2 separate regions of the Homo sapiens genome follow, and region 1 is reported to be linked to region 2. The links are microRNA targets in miRTarBase. Many come from high-throughput screens and were not tested one by one. Region 2 holds a microRNA gene; the other region holds the end of a gene's coding sequence.

The links. The annotated mature microRNA hsa-miR-3200-3p reads CACCUUGCGCUACUCAGGUCUG and lies in region 2 at 1,774-1,795, shown strand. An mRNA with a match to its seed (bases 2 to 7 or 8) in the 3' UTR can be bound and repressed. Matches are read on the target gene's strand: a 7mer-m8 pairs with bases 2 to 8, a 7mer-A1 pairs with bases 2 to 7 and ends in A, and an 8mer does both.
Region 1: miRTarBase lists RPL23 as a target of hsa-miR-3200-3p. Seed matches in the 3' UTR shown: 7mer-A1 at 2,285-2,291.

The regions. Positions count from the first base shown.
Region 1 is chr17:38,847,360-38,850,891 of GRCh38, reverse strand. RPL23 (ribosomal protein L23) reads left to right here. Exons shown (of 5, transcript NM_000978.4): 4 at 417-530; 5 at 678-3,032. The coding sequence ends at 760. It overlaps LOC124903994 (a long non-coding RNA gene), which reads right to left. Exons shown (of 3, transcript XR_007065743.1): 3 at 2,602-2,627. Among named protein-coding and RNA genes, the nearest start is that of SNORA21B, 2.5 kb to the left of the region's middle.
Region 2 is chr22:30,729,837-30,732,836 of GRCh38, forward strand. It overlaps MIR3200 (microRNA 3200), which reads left to right and starts at 1,721; the gene lies at 1,721-1,805. The region is part of intron 1 of OSBP2 (oxysterol binding protein 2); the gene reads left to right.

The sequences.
Region 1 (3,532 bases), not on the chromosome of region 2:
ACTGGGATCTTAATAACCTACCTGTAAGGTGAAGTTGGAAAAGGCATAGGCAAGGATAGTTGTCCTGAGAGTTTTACACTTGTGAGAAAATACTGGCAGCTTTGATTTTAAGATGTGAATAGATGATCGTGGTTCATGCCTTTACTCCCTATACTCCCAGCACTTTGGGAGGCCAGGCTTGCCAACATGGCAAAACCCTGTCTCTATGAAAAAAAAAAAAAAATCTGGGCATGGTAGTGTGCACCTGTAGTCCAAGATACTAGAGAGGCTGAGGTGGGAGGATCACCTTGAAGATTGATATTTACACTGTCACTGTCTCAAACGCTGAGTGTACATTCTGTCTAGTTGGAAACTGCTTTTGTGGTGGCACTGCGACTTGACAGGTTAATGACTGCTGTCCTTTTTTCTTCTCTCAGTACATCCAGCAGTGGTCATTCGACAACGAAAGTCATACCGTAGAAAAGATGGCGTGTTTCTTTATTTTGAAGATAATGCAGGAGTCATAGTGAACAATAAAGGCGAGATGAAAGGTAGGAAATCAGTCCAGCTTGTTCCTTAGGTCTCTGAGGTTGGGTGGATTGTCTAGAAGTACAGGCCAAGGATCTTCTGTGTTTGACGATGTCTTAATCTGTCCCCCACATGTTTTTATTTTATTTTATTTTATTTTTTTAATGCAGGTTCTGCCATTACAGGACCAGTAGCAAAGGAGTGTGCAGACTTGTGGCCCCGGATTGCATCCAATGCTGGCAGCATTGCATGATTCTCCAGTATATTTGTAAAAAATAAAAAAAAAAACTAAACCCATTAAAAAGTATTTGTTTGCAGTGCTTGTCTCCCTGTTCACTTCCAGGGTTCAAGCGATTCTCCTGCCTCAGCCTCCTAAGTAGCTGGGATTACAGGCACCTGCCGTCATGCCTGGCTAGTTTTTGTATTTTTGGTGGAGACAGGGTTTCACCATGTTTGCCAAACGACTCAAACTCCTGATCTCAAGTGATCTGCCCACCCAGGCCTCTACAGTGTTTTTGACATACCCTGACCATCACTTTTCTGAAATGGAAACTCTGGGCATTTTTTTTTTAAAGCAATCCTTGCTTTTTTGTGAGTTTGCAGACTTTCAGCATCTTCCAATTGCTGTATTTACAATTTTGGCCTCAAAAAGTATTATTTGGGTTTTGAGTCCCAAAAATAATAGTAGATACTGCTCAATGACTGGCTATACATGGTAGCTTCTCCTGGAGTGAGGAAGGCATTCAAATGGCTGGGCGCGGTAGCTGGCACCTGTAATCCCAACACTTTCGGAGGCCAAGGCAGGCAGATCATGAGGTCAGGAGTTCAAGACCAGGCTGACCAACGTGGTGAAACCTCCTCTTTTCTAAAAATACAAAAATTAGCTGGGCGTGGTGGCGCACCGCCTGTAATCTCAGCTACTGAGAGAATCGCTTGAACCTGGGAGGTGGAGTTTGCAGCGAGTCGAGATTGCACCATTGTACTCCATCCAGCCTGGGCAACGGAGCAAGATTCCGTTCCCGCCCCCGCCCCAAAAAAAGGCATTGAAGTTAAGATAGACTATATAGTTAGATCCTGGACACACACATGGATTTTGAGGAATGATGTGAGTTTGTTTATGTATGTACATTTTAGCAGTTAACAGATTTGGAGTAAATTGAATATTTATAAAACAACAGTAATTGCCATGTAGGTTTACTGTCATAGTGGAAGATGATTAAGTTGATGGTACCTACAGGTATTTTGCTATGAAAATGTTTTGACAAACAGGATGATCGTGTAATTTATGTTCCAAGCTCTAGTTTGAGAATGGAAGAATGTGGTAAATTTTTGCCAACTGAACAGGCATAAAGCGCTGATAATAAGGGACTTGGCCTTAAGGTAGGAGGTTGTTAGCATTTCTTTCTAAACGTGTAAGAGTTTATTTAGGTGACACCCAGCGTTTTGGAAAAATGGGTGTTTGTTTAGAACAATAATTTGGAGGGAAGTGGACTAAACAGGGTTTTTAGATTAAGGTTTGTGTTTATGTATCTGTATCTGCAAATACTCAGCCATAAATGTTTCTACCTGTAAGTTGGGTATAATACAAGCTCCACTTGGTATCAAAAAGGACTACCCTTAGTGTCTTCCATGACTAGTTATGGAATGTACCAGACCTAGAGAGGAGTTGTTCTAACCTGGAGCTTTTGAAAATGTTTCCGGTCCATACCCTAGACCAATTAAGTCAGACTGCAGAATAGGACTCAGACATCAGAATTGTGAAGCTCCCAGGAGATGTCAAGGTATACCCAAGACTGAGAACCAGTACCCTGTCTAGACTGAACCAGGCTTGGTTTTAGAAGTATTAAATCTCGCCTGGGTACGGTGGCTCACACCTATAATCCCAGCACTTTGGGAGGCTGAGGTGGGTGGATCATCTGAGGTCAGGAGAGTGAGACCAGCCTGTCCAACATGTTGAAACCCCATCTCTACTATACAAAATTAGCCAGGCATGGTGGTGCATGCTGTAATCCCAGCTACTTGGGAGGCTGAGGCAGGAGAATTGCTTGAACCCCGGAGATGGAGGTTGCAGTGAGCTGAGGTCGCACGATTGTGCTCCAGCCTGGGCAACCAGTGAAACTCTGGGGGGAAAGAAAAAAAATGTATTAAATCTCTAGTTTTAGAGAGTTACACCATAACATCCCTGAGTATGGTCAATTTCAAGTCAGCTTTAGTGTGACAAGCCCCTAGGCCCACCATTTATGTCTTTATATATTATGGCAATATATGATCCTTATATATTAACCACTAATCGCTGCTGTTTTTGAATGTTATCTTTTCTGAGGCAGTCTTGCTCTGTCACACAGGCTGGAGTGCAGTAACACCACTGAAGCTCACTGTAACTTTGAACTGCTGGACTTGGAATCCTCCTGCTGTGGCCTTCAAAGGGCTGCAATTACAAGTGTGAGCCACTGCATCCCACCTCACATTTTATTCTTTGGAGATTTTTTTTGACTTGGATTAAAAAACTTTATATTTACACTTCACTAAATGTTTTCCTTTGTCAGCTGGGCATGGTGGCTCACACCTGTAATCCCAGCACTTTGGGAGGCCGAGATGGGCTGATCACCTGAGGTGAGGAGTTCAAGACCAGCCTGGCCAACATGGTGAAATCTCGTCTCTACTAAAAATACAAAATTAGCTGGGCGTGGTGACGCGTGCCTGTAGTCCCAATTACTCCGCAGGCTGAGGCAGGAGAATTGCTTGAACCCAAGAGGCAGGGGTTGCAGTGGCGGAAGTTGCAGTGAGCCAGGGAGACTCCATCTCACTCCTGGGCTCCAAGAGACTCCTGGGCTCTTGTTGCCCAGGCTTGAGTGCAGTGGTGCAATCTCAGCTCACTGCAACCTCTGCCTCCTGGGTTCTAGCGATTCTCCTGCCTCAGCCTCCCGAGTACCTGTGACTACAGGTGCCCGCCACCACGCTAGGCTGATTTTTGTATCTTTTTTTTTTTTTTTTTTTTTTTTTTTTTTAGCATTTTTTTATTTTG
Region 2 (3,000 bases):
CTACTAAAAATACAAAAATTAGCCAGGCTCTCGTGGACTTCAGCTCTTGTGGACTTCAACACGTTGATTATGGGTTTCTAGCCTCCAGAAGTGTGAGATAATAAATTTCTGGGTTTTTTTGTTTTTTGGGGTTTTTTTTTGAGATGGAGTCTCCCTCTGTCACCCAGGCTGGAGTGCAGTGGCACAATCTCGCTCGGCTCACTGCAACCTCTGCCTCCCAGGTTCAAGCGATTCTCGTGTCTCAGCCTTCCAAGTAGCTGGGACTACAGGCGCATGCCACCATGCCTGACTAATTTTTGTATTTTTAGTAGAGACGGGATTTCACCATGTTTCCCAGGCTAGTCTCAAACTCCTGACTTCAAGTGATTTGACGACCTCGGCCTCCCGAAGTCCTGGGATTACAGGCGCGAGCCACCGCACCCAGCCTGGAGTTTGCTTTTAAAGCCAATTTTTATAAAGTATAAAAGTATAACATACATGCAGAAAAACTGGTCAATTACGAGGATGTAGCTAGTGAATTTTCATGGAGTGAGCACCTCCCTTATTTTGAATTTATTTCCCCCCACTTATTGTTAACAAACAGTGGCTTGTCATTTACAGGCCTGTGTCCTTCCCAAGCTAGACCATTGAGGCCAGAAAGATGTGTCGTATTTATTTTTGTATCTACTCCCTCCCCAGTTTCTAGCACAGTTCCTTTATATAGTAGCCCACAGGAAGTGCTTGCTGAATTAGAATGCAGAAGGTTGGATGGGAATTTCACAGTGAATCAGGGTCACCTTGAGCTTGCATTGAATGGAAGTTCCATATAAGACTAAGTACTTTGCTCCAGAGTGGTAGCTTTTGGTCTTTCTGTGCATCTGGATTCAGATTCGCTGCCCTGTCTCTCTCTCTCTCTCTCTCTCTCTCTCTCTCTCTCTCTCTCTCTCTCTCTCTCTCTCTATATATATATATATATATATATATATATATATAATTTTTTTTTTTTTTCCCATGGACATTTTTGGGGAAGGGCTTCTGGAAAACATAGCCCAAGGCAGGGATTAAAGAGCTAATGCTGGCCGGGCGCGGTGCCTCACGCCTGTAATCCCAGCACTTTGGGTGGCCGAGGCAGGTGGATCACGAGGTCAGGAGATCGAGACCATCCTGACTAACACTGTGAAACCCTGTCTTTACTAAAGATGCAAAAAATTAGCCAGGCGTGGTGGCGGGCGCCTATAGTCCCAGCTACTCGGGAGGCTGAGGGAGGAGAATCGCTTGAACCCAGGAGGTGGAGGTTGCAGTGAGCCGAGATCGCGCCACTGCACTCCAGCCTGGGCGGCAGAGTGAGACTCCATCTCAAATAAATAAATAAATAAATGAAAAATAAAGAGCTGACACTTTGGGAGGTGCAATCCCAGGGCAGTGAAGGAGCAATGGCAAGTGGCAGAGGAGAGATCAAAGTGACCACCCAGCTCATTCCCTTGCTGGATGAGACTTCACAGCGAGCTACAGAGACACGGTGGGTCGCTCAGCAAGCATGCTTGCCTGGCACATGGACTTTTCCAGAACTTACACAAGAAGAAAATACACCTCAGAGCCATCCGTGGAGGGAAGAGTGGGGGGAGATTCATCTGACCTGTTCTTTTCATATCCTATTTTCCACGGTGGCATTTCATACAAGCCCAGAAGTGGAGGTACGGCGTGACCTGGATGAGGCATCATCGAGAGAGACAAAGAAGGAGGTGGTCGAGGGAATCTGAGAAGGCGCACAAGGTTTGTGTCCAATACAGTCCACACCTTGCGCTACTCAGGTCTGCTCGTGCCCTCCCATGATATCAGCTCTCCTACTTCAATGTGGGAATCTCCGTTTTCCTTGGAGAACAAAAACATCCTCATTCCTTCCCTGAGCAGGAAGGTACAAATCCCATCAGTGACAGAAGCCATTTCCTGGTGCTGGCCCACTGGGGTTACCAGGAAGAATAAAGCAAGAAGGTTGTGAAACAAGGTCATCTGCTGCTGCTGTGGCCGGTCCTGGTGTGCTCATTGTTACTCATCATTTCCCTCCTGCACTACCCACCCTAGACCCTCTCCACTCTCCGCCAGCACTCTGGCTGGTCTGTGATGTTTGCGCTGAGTGGTCTGCATGTGTTGTTGGCCTTGCTCATTATCAGCCGTTACCAATCATGGAAATGTTAAGAGATACCGGTGCTAGGCACAGTGGCTCATGCCTGTAATCCCAGCACTTTGGGAGGCCAAGGTGGAAAGATCACCTGAGGTCAGGGGTTCAAGACCAGCCTCACTAACATGGTGAAACCCCATCTCTACTAAAAATACAAAAATTAGCTGGGCGTGGTGACGGGTGCCTATAGTCCCAGCTACTCGGGAGGCTGAGACAGGAGAATCACTTGAACCTGGGAGGCGGAGGTTGCAGAAAGCCGAGATAGCGCCATTGCACTCCAGCCTGGGCAACAAGAGTGAAACTCTGTCTCAAAAAATAAATAAATAAATAAAAATAAGAGATATCCCAAGGAGTCCTCTGGGTTTTATTCCAGACATTCTCCTCCCATTTCCAAATGGGCCACTCACCTAATTCCTCATGGCAATTAGGATCAGTGACCCCTGGCGGTAGAGTCACTCCCCTGGCAGTAGAGTCACTCCCCTGGCAGTAGAGTCACTCCCCTCTTTGTTGGTCACTGGCATGAGGAGCCGTAGGTGGCCAAGTGGTTGTGGCAGTGTCCAGATCAGTGGAATCTTTGTTTCACATTCCTCCCTTACCCCAGGACTAGATCCTCTAACCCAGCTGATCCCAAGTGTGTGAGGATGGGAAGCACACACCTTGCAAAGGGCAACCATGCGTGATGGTGAGCAGGGCCACTCCTGGACCTGTCTGCTGTAGCTGTGGGGGACATGGCACCAGATATCAGTTGTCAGCTCAAGGCATCCTGGAGGACAGAGGCTCAAACCTGAGGGGTATTTCTCCCTCGGTGTCCCCGCTAAGCCAGTAGGCCATTCCATTGTTTT